Linked DNA regions of Homo sapiens: region 2 is linked to region 1. The links come from fine-mapping of genetic effects on gene expression. Tissue or cell type: tibial artery. Region 1 holds a variant in brackets; the other region holds the start of a gene. All regions are shown on one strand. Distances are between the middles of the regions.

Evidence for each region. PIP is the estimated chance that this variant, and not a neighbour inherited with it, causes the effect.
Region 2: it holds the start of CHST8, and the variant in region 1 is fine-mapped to the expression of CHST8 in tibial artery (GTEx, PIP 0.99).

Annotation. Positions count from the first base shown.
Region 1 is chr19:33,640,721-33,651,129 of GRCh38, forward strand. The region is part of intron 1 of CHST8 (carbohydrate sulfotransferase 8); the gene reads left to right. Among named protein-coding and RNA genes, the nearest start is that of CHST8, 24 kb to the left of the region's middle. The variant C/T (reference allele first, on the strand shown) is at 5,064.
Region 2 is chr19:33,616,945-33,627,353 of GRCh38, forward strand. It overlaps CHST8 (carbohydrate sulfotransferase 8), which reads left to right and starts at 5,009. Exons shown (of 5, transcript NM_001127895.2): 1 at 5,009-5,352. RefSeq lists an enhancer at 3,970-4,714.

The sequences.
Region 1 (10,409 bases):
GCACTCTCCTCTTGCATCTCTGGCCCTTCCTGGGTGGTCTTGCCCAAGAAGGAACCTCCCTCCTCCTTCCAGCGAAGTGGGGTGCTCCACGACGCCTCCCTGCTGGCCCCTGGGTGATGGCCAAGGTGCTGCTCTGCCCAGGTGTGGGGGCTGCTGGGAATATCTGCTGCTGATGCTCCCAGGGGCGCCCCGGGATGGGAACTGCCCTGGGCCCCAGGGAGCTCCTTGCCCAAAGTCACACCCCATCCCACCGCCAGGGACTGCTACTGCTGTGGGATCACAAAGGCCCAGCCCCTTGTCTCCATTTGGGACTGCCCTGAAGGTCCCTCCCAGCACCAGAGCACCTATGGGATGGGCTGAGTCCTCAGCTGAGAGGCACTGCTGTCGGCTTCTCTCTCTGCCTGCTCCTGCCCTCCTCAGCTCCTCGCAGGTGGCTGTCCCGAGAGCCCTTCCCTACAAACCTGTCTGCACCGTCCATCCCAGAGCATCCAGGCAACTCAGCCCAAGATCCTGGCTCTTAGGGACTTACCTGTTCCTAAACCCATGGTAGGCTGGGTGAGTCCTCTTCTGCCAGGATCAGAGTCCTCGGGGAACAGGATTGCTGTTTCTGGCCCGAGACCCCTTCTTGAGGTCAGGACTGGGGGTGAGGCACTGACCAGCTTCTCAGTCTCAGCCTAGATCTCCGCCCCACCACCCCCTGGGCAGGGTTTGAGGAGCAGCAGGGTTAAGGGCTCCCCCAGATCTGAGCTGCCACACCTCAGCTTGCGGTGAGGAGTTTTCTGCAAGGAAACTTCTATCTCCCCAGGGGGGCAAGGTGGCACACCGGCTGGGGATTGGTGGTGTATTGGAACTGGTTCCCATAGCTGAAGATGGAAGGGAAGAAGGGGGCTGGTAAAGTAGGGAGAAGGAGCCTCAGATAGCCCAGAAATGAGGGGGTTCTGGACAGCCCAGGGTGGAAAATTTAGCTACCCTTGGAGTCAGGCCTCAGGGCAAAGGAGGGGTATGGTCTGGGATGTCGGGGGCGGTGTGTGGGGAGGGGGGACCTGCTGCTTTGGAAGGGGGCAGTGGGACTCCCGCTGTCATCGCAGAAAGGGATGAGGGTTTCCAGGGTGGCCAGGTATTCACATATTCAAGAACACAGGTCCATTTTTATATGAAATCGCTTCCCCTCTGAAGTCTGGAGACTAATTCAGAATTTAAAACCAAAGTCCTACGCTGACCAAACCATATGTCTGTATATTACTTTGGCCTCTGGGCCTGAAGAATTTGGAGTCCAGAACTTCACTGACAAGGTGGATGATTTCCGCCTGGAGGATGAGGGCCTGGGGCCTAGTGTCTCACCAGAGCCCTGGAAAGGGACAGGAACCACCAAGACCACAGGCCATGGCTGCAGGGCTGTGGGGCTCAGCACCCACTGACTGTGGCCTTTGTTCTGGGACATCCCTGTCTGCTGGGAAGGGGCCAAAGCCCTCACCTCTGGGACTGCAGATGGGTGGGCGACTGGCTGGGCTCTGTGTGCCTCTGGAGTCTGGCCCACTCCCCCAGGACCCCGTGGATGAGTGGGCAGCAGAGGGCCCCCCCCCACTCCACCTCCCACTTCCAAGGAATCTGACCTCAGCATTCTAGCTTCCACCTTCATAAGTCTTTTTTTTTTCTTTTTTTCTGAGATAGGGTCTCTGTCGCCCAGGCTGGAGCGCAGTGGCACGATCTCGGCTCTTTGCAACCTCTGCCTCCTGGGTTCAAGCAATTCTTGTGCCTCAGCCTCCCTAGTAGCTGGGATTACAGACACGCACCACCACACTCGGCTGAGTTTTGTATTTTTAGTGGAGATGGGGTTTCACCATGTTGGCCAGGCTGGTCTTGAACTCCTGACCTCAAGTGATCTGCCTGCCTCAGCCTCCCAAAGTGCTGGGATTACAGGCGTGAGCCACTGCGCCCAGCCAGGAGTCTTAAAGATTCCCTGCGGAAATGCCTTTGCAAGAGCAAAAAGAAGATTAAAGTCTTACCGTCCTTTGAATCCTTCTGGCTCTGGTGTTGGCATACATTGTCCCAGAGAAGGGGCTACCTTACGTCTCTATCGCTTTATATACGTAAACTCGTAAATCATTTTCATTTTATCAAAATGCAATAATCTTTATGCCTACCGCACATAACCTGTTTAATCACTTTGCATATCATGAATTCTTTTCCATGGTGATGAATCTGTTTCTGTCTTGCTTTTGACACCTACACGGCATCCCTTTCCATGAATTTATCATAATTTATAGAACCGGTTCCTTGTTGGACATTTTGGGGGTTTTCGTTTTTGTTTTTCAATTTTAAAGCATGTTGACATGAACCTTCTTGCAGTATACCTTTGTGCCATCCCAGCATAAATTCCTAGAAGTGGAATAGTTGTCTCAAAGGGTATGCCCGTCTTTAAAACTTTTAGTACTTCCCAACAAATCACCTTCCAGAAAGACCAAGCGGTGCGTGAGCGGGCCTATTTTTTCTCATAATCACAACCGCACTGGGAATCTTTGTTTTTTATTTTTTAAATCTGTGTCAATTAGATAGGTTAAAGAGGGGCGTGATTATTGCCTTTTTAACATACATTTTATTTTTACCAAAGTCATGCATGTGCATAGCTTAAGAAGGCATAAATAATAAAAAAAAGGCTTTTAACAAATCTACCAGTTCTCTGCTCCCTCCCTCCCCAGCTCTCCTGAGCCCGTGTTCTGGAGGCAGCCACCTATGACTCTTCTAGCCATTTCCCCAGCAGGCACTGCAGTTCTGCCTCCATATTTCTAAATAACACACATATGCCGCAGGTGCGAAATGGCCAGCCAGTTGTACCAGCATCATTTATGGAACATTCACTCTTTGCTTGCTGATTTTTAAATGCCACCTTGACCATTTGCTTAATTCCTGTGTTAACTAGGGCCTCTTCTATACTCTTCTGTTCTAGCCTGACTCTTCTAGTCCCAGCACCCACGATTTTAATTATCGTAGCTTAGGAGCGCATTTCTAGTATCTTAGGAGGCAGATCCCCTCTATTATGATTCTTGTGTGATATCACATTTTTATTATTTTGGATGTAGGGCGTCACATTTCAAATAATATCTAGCGAAGATTAGTGTTAGGATAGTGTTTCACTTACACATAAATTTAGGATAAGTTTACTATTTATCCTTACAAATAAGGATACATTGACTCCTTTACTTTATTTATTTATTAATTTTTTATTTTTTGAAACGGAGTCTCGCTCTGTCACCCAGGCTGGAGTGCAGTGGCTCGATCTCAGCCCACTGCAACCTCCACCTCCTGGGTTCAAGCCATTCTCCTGTCTCAGCTTCCCGAGTAGCTGGGACTACAGGCACCTGCCACCACACCTGGCTAATTTTTGCATTTTTGGTAGAGATGCGGTTTCACCATGTTGGCCAGGCTAGTCTCGAACTCCTGACTTCAGGTGATCCACCCACCTCAGCCTCCCAAAGTGCTGGGATTACAGGCATGAGCCAGTGTTCCCAGATTTACTGTATTTATTATTATTATACTGGGTCTTCTGAGCTGATCCATGTACTCAACAAATATTTATGGAGAACAAAGTGTGTGCTGGGTGCATGTCAGGTACTGTTCTAGGCACTGGGGGATACAGCAGGACGTGAAGCAGAGGTGAATCCCAGCCCCCATGGAGTCAGTGTTCTGGTAAGGGCAGCAGACAGTGAACACTAATATACTTAAGTATATGATGGCCGGGTGTGGTGGCTCATGCCTGTAATTCCAGCACTTTGGGAAGCCGAAGCGGGAGGATCCCTCGAGGCCAGGAGTTTGAGACAAGCCTGGGCAACATAGCAAGACTCCGTCTCTAAAAAAAAAAATTTTTTTTTAATTAGCCAGGCATGGTGGTGTGCACTTGTAGTCCCAGCAACTTGAGAGTCTGAGGCGGGAGGATCAGTCGATTCCAGGAGGTGGAGGCTGCAGTGAGCCATGACTGTGCCACTGCACTCTAGCCTGGGCAACGGAGCAAGACCCTGTCTCTAAAAAAATAAAAAATAAATGAATTATGTAGTGTTAGAATGTGGCACTTGCTTTAAAAAGCCAAGTAGGCTAAGAGGGATTGGAAGTGTGGGGTTAGGGAGGAAGGGAAGGGTCAAGGTGGGCCTCCCTGAGAAGGTGAGATGAGATTAGAGGTTGGGAAGATGTGGACCATACAGATGGTCTAGGCCAGTGGTTCTCAGCCTGGGCGATTGTATTCCCAGGGGAATTTGGCAACAGCTGGAGACATTTTTGATGGTCATGACTCAAGGATGCTCCTGGCATCTGGTGGCTACAGCCCAGGGACACTGCTAAACACTCTACAGTCTATAGGACAGCCCCCATGACAGAGGACCATCTGACCCCAAATGTCCGTAGTGTGGAGGTTGAGAAATTCTGACCTGGGTGAAGATGAGTGTGGGCAGAGAGGGCACCCAGTGAAAGGAACGGCGAGGAAGTCAGGAGTTGGGGGACAGGGCCCGCTGGAGATGAGGCCGTGTGGGGGCGGGGGACAGAGATGTGGGCCCTGCAGAACAGAGTACAGAGTAGGAAATTCGACTTTACTCTGTGTGCGTGGGGAGCAATGGCAGGGTTTTGAACAGAGAAGTGCAATGATTGAAATTATATTTTAAAACAGGTTCCCTGTTGCTGCCATGGTAAGGGGCAAAGAGGCCTGGCAGTGGGAGAGGATGATCCAGCCAAGATGCTGGCAGTGGACGTGAGCAGATGGGTTGATTCTAGATATATTTGAAGGCAGAGCCAACAAGATTTCCTGATGGGTTAGATGGGGTGTGAGGAAGAGATAGCTTTTGGTCTGAGCGGCTAGAAGGATGGAGTGACCCACAGCTGAGGTGGGAAAGAGTGGGTGGAACAGCTGTTGGAGGGGCTTAGGCTAAACATTCGGTGAAGGACATACAGGATTTAGGATGTCCAGTACACATGCAATGGCAGATGTTGAATATTTGGTTGGATATACAAGTTTGGAGTTATGGAGAGAGGTTAGAGCTGGAGATGTTATACCCCAATGGGTTCTTCTTATTGGCTGC[C/T]CAGAAAAGCCAATACACAGAGAAGAGCAGGAGTATTACAGCAGAAAAAGAGTTTAGTGAGGGCCAGGTGTGGTGGCTCATGCCTCTAATCTCAGCACTTTGGGAGGCCATGGTGGGTGAATTGCTTGAGGCCAGGAGTTCAAGACTAGCCTGGGCAACATGGCGATACCCCATCTCTACAGAAAATACAAAAAATTAGCTGGGCATGCTGGTACATGCCTGTGGTCTCAGCTACTCAGGAGGCTGAGGTGGGAGGATTGCTGGAGCCCAGGAGTTTGAGGCTGCAGTGAACTGAGATGGCATCATGGCACTCCAGCCTGGGAGACAGAGTAAGACTCTGTCTCAAAAAAAAACAAAAGTTTAATAATTGCAAGGCAATCCTGGCAGTAGTTGGGAGATAAATTCTTAACCTGCCTTCCTAAAAATTTGGAGGCTAGAGTCTTTCAAGGATAGTTTGGTGGACAGGGTACTAGGGAATGGGGAATGCTGGCCGGCTGTGTTAGGGATGAAATTATAGGGGGTAGAAGTTATAGCTTCTTCATTTATTGTGCTATGACAGTTTCCGGGTGGGGGTCACAAGATCATTTGAGCCAGTTTCTTGGTATGGGTTACTGGTTCAGGTGGCACCAGCTGGTCCATGGGAAAGCAAGGTCTGAAAGATACCTCAAACACTAGTCGTAGGTTTTACAATAGTGATGTTATCTACAGGAGCAGTTGGGGATGGTGTAAAATCTTTTGACCTTGTGGCTAATTTGTTAGTTTCACAAAGGTGGCTTTAGTCCCTGAGCAAGGAGGGGGTTAGTTTCAGGAAGGGACTATTGTCATCTTTGTTTTCAAGTTGAACTATGGGCCAGGCACAGTGGCTCACGCCTGTTATCCCAGCACTTTGTGAGGCTGAGGCCGGCAGATCAGTTGAGGCCAGGAGTTTGAGGCCAGCCTGGCCAACATGGTGAACTCCTGTCTCTACTCAAAATACAAAAATTAGCCAGACATGGTGGCGTACACCTGTTTGTCCCAGGTACTTGGGAGGCTGAGGCAGGAGAATTGCTTGAACCTGGGAGGCGGGGGTTGCATTGAGCCAAGATCGCTCCCTTGCACTCCAGCCTGGGTGACAGAGTGAGACTCTGTCTCAAAATAACTAAATAAAAATAAATAAAATAAAGTTAAGCTATGAGCTAAATTCCTCCCACAGTTAGCTTGGCCTATGCCCAGGAATGAACAAAGACAGCTTGTGAGGTTAGGAGCAAAATGGAGTCAGCTATCAGATTTCTCTCGCAGTCGTATTACAAAGGTGCAAAGGTGGTTTCAGAGATAATACATTTGGGAGTCATCAACATATAGATAGTTTCTAAAGCCTGAAGACTGATCGAGGTCAGCGAGGGAGTGCAAATAGAGACACAAAGAGGACCAATAACTGAGAGCGGGAATATTCCAACGCGAAGACTCCAGGGAGATGAGGAAGACCCAAAGCAAGGCAAGAAGGGACCAGTGAGACAGGAAGAAAGCAGGAGACTATCACGTCCTGGGAGCCAAGTGAGGAAAGTGCACCACAGAGGAATGCATGGTCCCTTTTGCCCAATGCTGGTGGCAGGCCAGGTGGGTGAGGACCAAGGGCTGATCAGTGGGTTCTGCAATGTGCTCCAGGCAAGAATGGCTTTGGTGGAACAAAGGTCTGATTTTGGTGAGTATATGATAGAATGGGAAGAGAGACACTGGAGATTGTGAATAGGGATAACTCAAGGTGTTTTGCTGCAAATGAGGGCAAAGAAATGGGGAGATAGGCTTGGTGCGGTGACTCACGCTTATAATCCTAGCACTTTGGGAGGCGGAGGCGGGTGGATCGCTTGAGGACAGGAGTTCGAGACCAGCCTGGCCAACATGATGAAACCCTGTCTCTACTAAAAATACAAAAATTAGCCAGGCATGGTGGCGTGCACCTGTAATCCCAGCTACTAGGGAGGCTGAGGCAGGAGAATCACTTGAACCCGGGAGGCGGAGGTTGCAGTGAGCCGAGATCATGCCACTGCATTCCAGCCTGGGCAACAGAGTGATGCTCCGTTTCAAAATAAATAAATAAATAAAATAAAATAAAAAAGAAATGAGAAGATAGCTGCTGAGGGAAGAGGGGTTGAAAGGTTTTTGTTTTGGGGGTTTTTATTTTTTTTTTTAGGATTGGAGAAATCACAGTATATCTGTATGCTGATGAGACTGATAGAATAGAATGTGAAAAACAGGTAGTTCAGAGGGGAGAACTGTTTGAGCCCAGTCCTTGAGAAGCTTAGAGTATTGGAGCTGGTGGATGTGGGGGATTGGCCATAGGTAGAAGCACAGACAATTCTCCTAGGGTCAAAGCCGGGAGGGCAGAACAGTGGATGCAAATATGGTCACTAGGGTCTGGAAGTCCTCTCTCTCTCTCTCCTCTGTGTTTCTCTCTCTGTTAACAGCTTTATTGAGACATAATCACATACCTCACCATTCACCCACCTGAAGTGTGCAATTCCATGGTTTTCAGTATGTTCCCAGTGTTGTGCGCCCATCGCCACAGTCAATTCCACAACATTTTCATCACTCCAGAAAGAAACCCTGTGCTATTCACAGTCACTCCCCTTCCTTCCTGCCCAGTCCTAGGCAAACACTAATCTGTTTTCTGTCTCTATACATTTGCCTATTCTGGACATTTCATGTCAATTGAATCCTACAATGCGTGGTCTTTTTTTCCGCTTAGCATAATAATGGTTTCAGGGTTCAGCCATGTTGTATTAAAAGTACTCCCATCTCTAAAAAATAAAAAATTAAAAAAATTAAAGTTGACTGGGCGTGGTGGCTCATGCCTATAATCCCAGCACTCTTGGAAAACGGTCTAGCAATTCCTCAAGAGGTTAAGCATAGATTTACCAAATGGCCCAGCAATTCCACTCCTGGGTGTATACCCAAGAGAAATGAAAATATATGTCCCCAAAGACTTTGTACACGAATGTGTACACAGCAGCTTTATTAATAATCGCCAAAAGGTAGAAACAACCCAAATATCCATCAATAGATGAATGGATAAAATATAATAATAAATGTGTATATCTGTACAATGCAATATTATTCAGGCGTAAAAAGGAATGAAGCACTTTTTTTTTTTTTTTTTTTGAGTTGGAGTCTCGCTTTGTCATCCAGGCTGGAGTGCAGTGGGGCGATCTCGGCTCACTGCAAGCTCCACCCCCCAGGTTCACACCATTCTCCTGCCTCAGCCACCCGAGTAGCTGGGACTACAGGCGCCCGCAACTAAGCCCGGCTAATTTTTGTATTTTTATTAGAGACAGGGTTTCACTATGTTGGCCAGGCTGGTCTCAAACTTCTGAGCTCAATTGATCTGCCCACCTCAGCCTCCCAAAGTGCTGGGATTACAGACAGGAGCCACTGTGCCCGGCCTGTCTATCCTTCTGATCACAGCCATCCTAGTGTTTGTGTGCTAGTATTTCACTGTGGTTTGGGTTTGCATTTCCCCAATGAGTAATGATGTATCTCATTGGGGATGCATCTTTTCACATGCTTATTTGCTACTTGGATGTCTTTGGAGATGTCAGCTGAAAAAACACATGATTTATAGACTTAGAAAGGAGAACTTTATTTCTTAAGAAGGGGTTCACAACCTACAGGCCGGAAGCGCAGCCTCCACCTGAAAACCGAAAGCAAGCACTTCGAGGGAGGGCAGGGTGGAACAGGAATTTATGCTGAACGGGCTGGCCAAATACGCATATTCAGCAAGTTACAGGAAGAACTATGAACATTCATGAGGGGGGTCTGGACGCATACATACTGAACAAACATGCACGTTACATGCGTCCCATGTTTACCTTGTTTACCTTAGGTAGCAGACTTTGCATATAAATGCATTACAGTTAAACCCTACATGTCAAAAGGACATGAAGGTATTCAGTGCACAGCAGCCTCTGTAAACCGGCCAGAACCAGGCCATGGTGGGTAGTCTCTTATTAGGAGAAAGTTACTGAAATCAGTCTCTTGTCCAATCAAAGCTGCAGTTATGGCTGGTAAATCAGAGGGGTAGGGGGTCAGTTAGTGCCTGGCGGTGGGTAAGCTGCAATTGTTTCAGTATTGTTTATCTCCAAACCAGTGCTTGTTTAGCTGCTAGAGAAAAAGAAACTCCTGTGGCAGTTAGAGCATAGTTTACTTTTATAAATAGTAGTATAAAAAGTGTAGGGGTGTGTGACTTTATCCTTGCCTGGCATGGCCTTAGGTAATGTTTATAACTTGGTGTCTTACTGCCACAAAGAGTCTGTTCTGTGAGTCTTATGATCTCTGTGTTAATGTTCATGCTGGTCAGTTGTTGTGTCTAAACCACAAAAGGGATGGGAGTCCTGCTGTAGTCACTCTTAGGAGAGGAAGTCTAACGGTGGTTAGCAAGGGAGAGGTGTGTGTCCAACCTCCCGTCCCAGCATGGCCAGGAACCCAGTTTTTAAGATTTCTCTGGGTTCCTCTTGGCCAAGAGGGGGACTGTTTATTCAGTTGGGGGACTTAGGATTTTCTTTTTAGTTCTCAGAGACTATCTATTCAGATCCTTTGCCCATAAATTAATTGAGTTGTGAGACTATCTATTCAGATCCTTTGCCCATAAATTAATTGAGTTGTTAAATTTTTTAAATTATCAAGTTGGAAGGATTTTTTTAATCTATTCTGGATACAAGTTTCTTTTTTTTCTTTTCTTTTTCTTTTTCTTTTTCTTTTCTTTTTTTTTTTTTTTTTTTTTTTTTTTTTGAGACATAGTCTCTCACTCTGTCGTCCAGGCTGGAGTATAGTGGTGTGACCTTGGCTCACTGGTACTTTCTCCTCCCAGGTTCAAACCATTCTCGTGCCTCAGCCTCCCAAGTAGCTGGGATTACAGGCACCCGCCACCACACCTGGTTAATTTTTTTGCTTTTGTTTTTGTTTTATCTTGAGACAGTCTTGCTCTGTCACCCAGGCTGGAGTTCAGTAGTGTGATTTTGGCTCACTGCAAACCTTCGCCTCCCGGGTTCAAGCGATTCTCCTGCCTCAGCCTCCCAAGTAGCTGGGACTACAGGCATGTGCCACCATGCATGGCTAATTTTTGTATTTTTAGTAGAGATGGGGGTTTCACCAGGCTGGTCTTGAACTCCTGACCTGAGGTAATCTGCCCACCTCAACCTCCCAAAGTGCTGGGATTACAGACATGAGCTGCCACACCTGGCCACAAGTTTCATATTAAATATATGATTTGCAAATTTTATCTTGTTCTGTGGGTTGCCATATTTTCTTGATGGTATCATTTGCAGTACAAAAGTTTTCAATTTTGATAAAATCCAATTTCTCTTATTTTTA
Region 2 (10,409 bases), 24 kb before region 1:
AGTGAGCTAGGGTCATGCCACTGCACTCCAGCCTGGGTGATAGAGTGAGATTCTGTCTCAGAAAAATAAAGTCTCCCCTTTCTTTGCAAGTTAGTCATAGTTTCTGTTGTGCACTCTCTAGAAAACCACATCTGTTCACCAACTCTCTTCTGTGTTAAGGACTGGTGTCACTTTAGCCTGCCCCAGAAAAACTTCTCTTTAAAGAGAAACTATTCCTTTTTTTTTTTTTTTTTTTTTCAGACGGAGTCTTGCTCTGTTACCCAGGCTGGAGTGCAGTGGCGCCATCTCAGCTCGCTGCAACCTCCACCTCCTGGGTTCAAGCAATTCTCCTGCCTCAGCCTCCCCAGTAGCTGGGATTATAGGCGTGCACCATCACGCCTGGCTAATTTTTGTGTTTTTAGTAGAGATGGGGTTTCACCATGTTGGCCAGGCTGGTGTTGAACTCCTGACCTTGTGATCTGCCCTTCTCTGCCTCCCAAAGTGCTGGGATTACAGGCGTGAGCCACCATACCCAGCCAAGAGAAACCATTCTTATACCCTGAGGAATGATGGTGAAATTTCGAAATTGTGACAGGTATATGGGGTTCAGGGATGCCCAGAACCCCCAGCAATGTTGCTTATGCAGGGGATACCCACCCAGGCATATTGACATCAGGAAATTTCAGACAACTCAACTCAGAAGGAAACAAAGTGACCCTCCAGCTCCTTGAAAACCCAAGAGGTGACAGAAAAGGGGAAAGGAGAGAGGAGGAAAAGGCCTGGGAAGGAACATTCATCCCATAAGGTGGCCAAGGGATACCTTGGCTGGAAATGAGTCTGGGCCACGTTCCCTGGTGAGGAACTTTTAGGAATCATGGAATTGCACAGCAGGCCTTCAGATCCTGGGCCCCCATCCCTCATCTTTCGAATGGGGAGGTCGAGGCCTGGGGAGGGAAGGCATGGCCCGGAGCCCACACAGGCCCCAGAGAGCAGCTGAGGAAGGCAGGTCCGTTCCCAGGAGGAGTCTCCCGCCTGGATGGCACTCTGATCAGCACGTCACTGGCCTGTCTGTGTGTTGAACTGACTTCAGGAAGCCTTGGGGTCACAATATTGCAGAGGCCATTACAGGGCCAGATGTTGGACGTGGAAGCAAGGCCAGGCCACGTCATACCCTGAGGTGACTAGTCTGTGGGTGGCTAAGGGCAGTCTGGTCACAGGACTCCAATTCCCAAAATGCCATGACACCCTTCACCTTTCCTCTGCAGGGACAGTCTATTGTCTCTGCATACAGGGAACAGGCTCTGAGGGGTTAGGAGACAAGTTCAAGACCCCCTAGCTGGCACCTGGGAGAGCTGAAGCAGACCTCCTGGCCCATCCCATCATTCCCTTCTTCCTCCCATGGGATGCAGGGAGACAGATGAGGTGTTCCCGACCTGCCAGTATAGATGGCTCCCAAACTCCTCTGTGGAACAAGTCTTCTTCTTCTTCTTCTTCTTCCTCGTCTTCTTCTTCTTCTTCTTCTTCTTCTTCTTCTTCTTCTTCTTCTTCTTCTTCTTCTTCTTCTTCTTCTTCTTCCTCTTCTTCTCCTCCTCCTTCTTTTTCCTCTTCTTCCTCTTCTTTTCTTCTTCTTCTTCTTCTTCCTCTTCTTCCTCTTCTTCCTCCTCTTCCTCCTCTTCCTCCTCTTCTTCCTCTTCTTCCTCTTCTCTTCTTCTTCTTCTTCTTCTTCTTCTTCTTCTTCTTCTTCTCCTTCTCCTTCTCCTTCTTCTTTTTTTTTTAATAGAGTCTCACGCTGTCACCCAGGCTGGAGTGCAGTGGCACAATCTCAGCTCACTGCAACTTCTGCCTCCCAGATTCAAGTGATTCTCCTGCCTCAGCTTCCTGAGTAGCTGGGGCTACAGGTGAGCACCACCATGCCCTGCTAACTTTTGTATTTTTAGTAGAGATGGGGTTTTGCTATGTTGGCCAGGCTGGTCTCAAACTCCTAGCCTCAAGTGATCTGCCCACCTCAGCCTCCCAAAGTGCTGGAATTACAGGCATGAGCCACCATGCCCAGCCTGTTCTGGTTCCTCTCATGGCAACAGATGGAAGGTTCAGGACTCAAGACTCAGTCTTGCCAAACACAATGTGAGACAGTCTCAGCTTCCCACTGTGCCACCTTCAGCCTCCAGCCCAAAGACGGGCAGGAACCTTCACTTGCAGGAACGGCCTGAGGAAAGGGAGCCCAGAGCCAGTGGAGGCGGGGGTCTGCCTGCGTCCCAGAGCCAAGCCCCCTCCTCTTTCCTGTATCCTTGTTGCAGCAAACAGATTGGCACCTGAACCTCTCTATTAGCCCTTCTGGGGCTTAGGCTGTGGGCGCATGGGGCCATGCACTAAAAATGTCTTTCACCTTAGTTGGGATGCAAAGAGACAAGTTTGCCACTAATCTTTCGGTGGAGACACACATATCAAAAATCGCAAGTGAGCACACAAGGCTTCCTGCAGGGAATTGCAGCCTTCCTGCTCCTCCCTCGCTGCAGAGGCTGAGCCTGACTTTCAAAAAAGGGCACGCAGCCCTTGGCAAATCTCGGAGGAAAACTCACTGCGAGTTGGTGCCAGGGGCCTCAGGCCCCCTTTGGGGATTTCCCCCATGGCCTCTCAAAACAAGAAGGAAGTCTGAGTTAAAAATGGAAAATGGAGAGAATGTCAAAGGAATGCAGCGTTATTGATTCCTAGTGGTGTCTGCCTGAATATTAGATGCAAATAAGTGCTAATAAGTACAGTTGGGAAAGCTAATGGAAAAACCATCCTTCCCAGGAGGATCGCGGCACACAGATGCACAGTGTTGCTGAGATGGCTTGGCTCGCTCCACTCACTGGTCACGGCAAAGCCTGTATAGATGCATCCCAGGGAAATAAAGCCTGTGTAGACTTGTCGCATGGAAGTACTCATGGTCCAGAGCCCCCTTTCCAGCTTTGAGGCTGGGCTCTGGAAATGGGAGCTCCTATTATCTCCCCATTGCAGTTAAGTCTCTCTTTCTCTCTCCGTGTGTGTGCATGTGTGTGTGTGTGTGCATGCATTTGCCCTCTGGAGTGTTCATGGTACTGAAGAGATTCTCTTGACCATCAGGCCTCTGTGGCAAAAGTTGTGTGCTCTGTTCCAGGCCTAACTGCAGACAGGGAGCTCATGGGCAGCTGCCCAGCCAAGCTATGGTCAGGACCTTGGGTGGCAAGAGGGGCTGCAAGTGTGGGGTAAGGGGACCACAGGGACAGGGATGGGGTCATTGCACTGTGAGCTAGTCCGGCAAGTGACTTTTTGCTCACTCCACTCTCCCCTCTCTTTGTTCCTACCTTCTCTCCTGCTCTGCTCCAACAGCTTTGGGATGTAGGATGAATAAGGGTTCCACTGCCCTGTTTTTCCTGACACTTGAGTCCCTGGCCCTTGCACTCAGCTCCTCCAATCTGCACCTGACTGAGGCGGAGGAGGGTGATTTCAGACACACACACACACACACACACACACACACATTCCCCTCATGCGTGCAGCCAGTGGAGTGTGCCTGGGTCCCAGCGCAGCCCCAGGCCTGGGTCACTCCGAGCCTAAAGTCCTGGAAAGGGAACCCCAGAACAAAGCCTATCCCAGTTTGGAATCATCACACCTGGGCCATTCTCCAGATGCGTGGAGTCCAGCAAAATGGTGGCATTTTTGCATCTCAATTCGCTCATCTGTAATACGGGAGTGATAATGTCTACTCTGTTGCTGCAAGAATTAAAGGAAGACCATGATCTCTTTGTCATGCTTCTATTTATCTTCTTATCTGTCCTGGTCTATTTTTGGATGCTCTGAGCTTACCTGGGGCATTAAGGAGGCCTCATGGCCCTGGGGCTGAGGGGCTCCCTGGCCGTCCCCAGGAGTGGCTCTGCTCTCCGCCTGGTGTCCCCCACTCTGGTCAGTCAAGACCCATGGGCCCAGCTCACTCCCCAATTCCATCACTCACTCTAGGTCAGCTGGTAGGAGTCAGGCCAACCAGCCAGCAGGTACCATTAGAGAGGAGAGAGTAAGGGTCTTTCACTTTATTAAAGGCTTCTCTGCTGTTGTTTGAAAATACTGAGTGTCCCTTCAAGACTAACAGGTGACTGTGTGCACAGTTTCCTCCAGCTCCTGTGAGAAAGCAGTTGCCCCCCTTCCCAAGGCCTGCTTGTCCCCTGCAGGCTGGGGCTGCCTCTTCTTAGGAAGAACAAGGACCCGAATCCAGGGCCCCGTGTTCCTGTCCCTACTCTGTCCCGGTGCTGTGTGGCCGTGGGCCGGTTCCACCCTCCACGCTGTTTTCCCGAGTGTGTATGAAGAGGGTCGGTTGGCCCCGCTCTCAGGCTGGTGACCCGACACAAACTTCCAGGATGAAGTCCTGAAGGGAGCACCTGTTCGCAGGGCACTTTCAGCAGAATCTAGAGCCCCAGGGATTTGAGGATGGATGCGGACACCCGGGCCTGAGGCAGCTCGCGGCCTTGACCGAATTCCACGCGAGCTGAAGCCCAGGGATATCCCAGAATCTTCCTCAGGATCAATCTTCCGCCTTTCACCGGCCCTGCGCCCCCGCAGCATCGGGTCCTGGGCGCGCGCCCCTGCCCCGCTGTGGTCAAGGCCCGCCCCGGTGACGCCTGGTCCTTTTCCCGGGTTGGCGCCGCGTGCGACCCACCGAGGCAGTGGCAGCACTGGCCGCGGTCTGGAGCCTAGCGTCAGGCCGGAGTCCGGCTCTCCTGAACCGGGAGACCGGCGCAGCCCCAGCCACGACCGCTCCCACCCCCGCGGCCGCCGGACCGCGCCCAGCAGCGACTCTTTCTGAGAGCGCTGCCAGAGGGGCCGCGGGAGCCGCAGAGCGCGCGTGGGCGCGGCGCCCGCGAGCCCCCGGGAGGGCCGAGTGCATCGCTGGAGCGATCCCCGCCCGGCCCGGCCACCGCCGTAGCCGCCACCACGGCGGGGCGGGGCACGGGCCGGGGGCGGGGCGCCGGGCGGGCGCGGCGCTATTTCCAGCCTCGCCGGAGGCTTCGCTCTCACTTCGCTGGGAGCCTTCCCGGCGCGCAAGCCGGATCCGGCAGTGCTGCGGGGAGGAGAGAGGACGAGGCGGCGGCGGCAGCAGGAGGTGGGGGACCGATCGCGCCGGGGGCCGAAGAGGAACGCCGCCCCGCGCCCTCTCGCTCCCCGCACGCTCCGGCTGCCGGCCCCACGCTGCTCGCCCACAGATCGCACTGGGTTCCGCTTGGAGCGGGCGGAGGCACCGGGCCCGAGCTGGGTCGGAGGTCCTCTCCGCCGCCTGCGCGCCCCAAGCAGAGGATCCGCCGCGGAGAACCGCTCCCGGACTGGAGGCGCCCGCGGCCTCGGGTGCGTCCGCTGCGCCAGGTAAGTGGCTGCGCCCCTGCCCCACCCCTGTTCCCGCCCTGCGCAGGCTCCTGGCCTGCAGAGACGCCAGGAAGGGGTCCCGAGCGGGCCCCGGACTGCACCGCTCGCCATCCCCGCCACCGCACGCGAATGGGAGTCCGAAGCTGCGGGCGGAGGTGGGCGCGCGGGGCTCGGGTCTGGTTGCACTTTGGGGACCGGCCCCGGTAGCGGGAACTTTAATTAGACTTTCTCTCCTTGGATCTCACTCGCTGCCGCGCTTCTGGGAACTGCCGTCCCTCGGGCCCTCTTGGTCCCTGCGGACTCCCGCTCCGCCTCCTGGCCCTCGGTGCTGCCCGCGGGGAGGCGGCGTCGGGCGCTGAGCAGCGAGCGCCGAGGGCCAGGCAGGAGCGCTCGGGGCGCTGGGGCTTCCTGGCGCGCTCGGAGCCGGGGCTCCGGACGGGTTGCGGCGGGCAGAGACTATGGGGGAAGTTTAAGTGGCCTTGGCTTCCTACCCAGCGGCTCCGTCGCGCGCGTCCCCGACCCGCAACTCTCCAGGGCACCGGCCTGTGAGTGCTGGAGGCGAGTGTGCGTGCGTCAGCGATGGTGTGAAGGTGTGTGCGTGCGTGTGTCGGGAGTGCGGGAGTCGGAGCCTGGGGCGGCTCCAGGGGGCGGGGAAATGATCCGTTTGGCCGCGGGACCGAGCCGAGCTCTGACGGCGGCTGCAACTCCGGCTACCGACTCTGCAGACCCGCTCTGGCCTCGCTGGAGGCCAGCCGGGCCAGGAGGGCGATCACGGGTTTTGGCAGTGCCCGATGCTGGGGCTTGGGTCTGATGTGACCCCGATTCCTTCTCCAGTGCGGGACTCCCGCCGCCCTAACTTTCGCGTACATCTTGTCTCCAGGCCCGCGACCCCGACCCGGAGTTGAAGCGGCTGCGGCGCCCTCGGCTGTGGGCGCTGCTGCCCGGCTGTCTGTTTTAACCCAGAAGTAGGCGCCGATCCTGGGGCTCTCTGTCCTGCAGTCGTCTCCGGCGTCCCAGAGGACTCTGCGTCCCTGGGCCACTCCCGCTGGCTCAGGAGCCGTGATCAGCTCCGTTAAGGGGAACGCGCGTCCCGGCCCCTCTCCATCTGCTTGGCGCGATCTGGCGCAGCAGCAGAGCACGTGGGAGAGGCGTTGGGTGCAGGGAGGTAGTAGCTGCTTTGGAGTGGATGGTGGAGAGGGGCGGGGGACAGAGGGGTAAGAGGCAGATCAACCCCCTTTTATTTCCCACCGCCGCCCAAGGCCCCCAGGAGCTACAATACCAAGCCCACTTTCCTGGGTAACCTTTCTCTTCTGAGTTCACCTTGACCCTTGCCTACCTGTGGGGAAGTCTTTCCCTAAGTCCTGCCCTAGGACAGGGCACCCGTGGAGCAGGTGTGGCAGAGCCCTTAACATTTTCCAGCTGTCATGACCTTTCCTGCCCACCCTGTGCCCTGTCCCAAAGGCAAGGCAGACAGGCCACAGGAAGGACACTCATCCCAGCAGGAGATCCTCTTTTAATTTTAATCAGGACACCCCAAGCACAGAAGGCGGCGTGGGAGTTCATTCAGGAGCGTTCAGCAGACTGGCCTCTGTGAAGTGACCCACGGGAGGAATAACATTGGAACCCTGAAGAGAGGGACCTCTTGAGGGTCTGAATGTTGGTTCCAGTGGGACTGGCTGATCAATTATCCAATAGCATTTGAACACAGAAAAACCTCAAAGCCGGAACCTGACCCATTGCCTGGCCCAGTCGCCCTGGGACACACAAACAGTGCAGCTCATTTATTTACTTATTTATTTATTAACCTGGAATCAGACTCGGCAAGAGTGAATTATGTTTCCCGGGTATTGATTTTTAAAAAGACCCCAAATTAAAAAGTCAAGGCTTTCTTAAAGCAAGGTCAAGGATTAATTATTTATCGAGAGGCATCCATCAGGCAGCGTGGGGGCTCATTTATAAATTGCCTGAGCAGGCAAAATGAGCATCTTTTGATTTTCCTTGGCTCCAGTTGGGAGAGGAGAGCAGGCTCGTCTGACCTCCTGGGCTTGGTAGAACATCCCCCTCGGACTGTAACCGACGACAGAGGATGCTTTGTAACTCAGCCTGCTGTTAGAGATGCCTTTATAATCTTGTAGCCAGAATATCACTTGGGAAATTTCATGCATATTTGCTGTGTTTCCATAATGAACATTTACTGATTACAGGGTATCCAGGGAATTTCATTTTTTAAACATTTATTCAAATCTCTGTTTATGTAAGCTAATAAGTCTGGGAAAGTTCAAAAACGACTTTTTTGCCGTATGGTTGTTGAGAAAGTGTGTCTGGTGGGCTACTCTCAGAATTTGTCTTCAGTTCTCTTAAAAAGGGGAGAGTCAGATTTGCCTGATTGGAAACCTCGCGCAGGCTGCTCCCCTGCTCTGAGCTCTGAGTTCCTGCCAGAGGCAGCCTGATAGGCTTTTTGTGGTTTTGCTGATGGAAGAGAGGAAGGGGAGCTTTGATCATTGCTGATGCGTCTGGCTGGAGAAATTTTTAGTGAGTGCGGCTGTGCTTGTAGGGGCTGATGGGGAAGGTGTGGCCCAAGCTGAGGTCCCTGGCTGATGTCCCCATCTCCTGCCTGCTGCCTGGCCTGGAATCTGAGATCCCTGTCTTAGCTACATCTGCTGCTTTGCAGCTTGGAAAAACCTCCCTCCCTGATTTACTGGTGCGTGGCAGCCACACTGGAGAAACGTGGGGCAGCGGGGAACCTGTGAGCAGGAAAGAGGACACAGGATTATGGCAGCTTTCTTTCTTTCTTTTTTTTTTTTTTGAGATAAAGTTTCACTCTTGTTGCCCAGGCTAGAGTGCAATGTTGCGATCTCTGTTTGCCACAAGCTCTGCCTCCTGGGTTCAAGCAATTCTCCTGCCTCAGCCTCCCGAGTAGCTGGGATTACAGGCATGCGCCACCACTCCCGGCTAATTTTGTATTTAGTAGAGACAGGGTTTCACCATATTGGCCAGGATGGTCTCGATCTCCTGACCTCGTGATCCGCCCACCTTGGCCTCCCAGAGTGTTGGGATTACAGGCGTGAGCTACCGCGCCCCGCATGGCTGCTCTTTAGTGAGCAACCGTGGCAATTAGAGCCGATAAACACCATGTGGAATGAGTGGCCAGCCTTTCAGCTAACCAGAAGGTGACGAGTTATAAACTGGAGATTTATATAGTGCTGGCCCAAGGAGATCAATGTGACCCGGCAGTGGCACAGCAAAAAATGAAATAAATAAGTAAATATGTTTTTAAAAGATCGGCCAGGCACGGTGGCTCACGCCTGTAATCCCAGCACTTTGGGAGGCCGAGGTGGGTGGATCACTTGAGGTCAGGAGTTTGAGACCAGCCTGACCTACGTGGTGAAACCCAGTCTCTACTAAAAAGACAAAAATTAGCCGGGCATGGTGGTGCTCACCTGTAGTCCCAGCTACTCAGGAGGCTGAGGCAGGAGAATCACTTGAACCTGGGAGACAGAAGTTGCAGTGAGCCGAGATCATGCCCCTGCACTCCAGCCTAGGCGACAAAGCGAGACTGTCTCAAAATAAATTTTTTTTTTTAAATTGAGGTTGGTGCCTGGATGTAGATATGGCATCAGTGTCCTGCAACCTCAGAAAGTTGGCTGGGCATGAGCAATCTGCATGGTGACAGCGTGGTGACAGTAGGCTGTTTGGTGCTGTCTTTGGCGCCATATTCAGGGCTCATCTGACTCCAGAGCGGCTGTGTTCCCTCCAGAGGAAACCCACGGACCCAGACAACCCGGGGACAGAGCTGCATTAGCTCAGGTGCCAGAGGATGCGGCAGACGCCATCTCATTTCTTATCAGCTGGAGGATGTGTGACCCTGTGGTCAGTAAATCAGCATGGCAGATCGTGAGGCTTACAAATTGGTCATGGAAAAAAGTTGTGACTTTTACCCTGTACAAAACTACCTGTCATTTGTGATGTGGTGTTCTAGCCTGCACTGGCTGGATTCATTCCCGGACCCTTAGAAACTCAGCAATGCAGCCTGGGCCACCGAGAGACTGGGGAAGCCTCCGTGCAGGTGGGTTGACACCAAGAAGCAGCCCTGGCCCCATTGCCAAAGCCACCTTTTAGGAAGTCAGAGAGTATCTGTGCAATAATTTGGATGTTTGTCCCCTGTGAATCTTACCTTGAAATGTGATCCCCAGTGTTAGAGGTGGGGCCTGGTGGGAGGTAGGTCATGGGGGTGGCCCCTTTATGAATAGATTAATGCTATTGTGAGGCAGGGAGTGAGTTCTTGCTCTATTAGTTCCCACAAGAGCTGGTTGTTAAAAAGAGCCTAGCACCTACCCCCTACCTCTGTGATCTCGGCACACACCGGCTCCTCTTCTCCTTCCATTTTAAGTGGAAGGGCACGAGGCCCTCACCAGATGCAAATGCAGGTGCCATGCTTCTTGTACAGGCTGCAGAATTGTGAGCCAAATAAGCCGCTTTTTTTTTCCTTTTTTTTTTTTTTTTCTTTTTAGAGACAGAGTCTCGCTCTATTGCCCAGGCTGGAGTACAGTGGTGCTATCATAACTCACTGCAGCCTTGAACTTCCAGGCTCAAACAATCCTCCTGCTTCAGCCTCTTGAGTAGCTGGGACTACAGATGCACACCACCATGTCCATTAATTTTTAATTTTTTTTTATAGAGATGGGGTCTCCCTATGTTGTCCAAGCTCATCTTGAACTTCTTGCCTCAAGCAATCCTTCTGCCTCAGTCTCCTAAAGTGCTGGGATTGCAGATGTGAGCCAGCATGCCTGTCCTCTTTTTTTGGGGGGGGGGCGGGTGGGGTGACGGAGTCTCGCTCTGTTACCCAGCCTGGAGTGTACAGTGGTGTGATCTCGGCTCACTGCAACCTCTGTCTCCCAGGTTCAAGCAGTCCTCCCACCTCAGCCTCCCAAGTAGCTAGGATTACAGGCATGCACCACCATGCCCAGCTAATTTTTTTTTTTTTTTAATATTTTTAGTAGAGATGGGGTTTCACCATGTTGGCCTGGCTGGTCTCGAACTCCTGACCTCAAGTGATC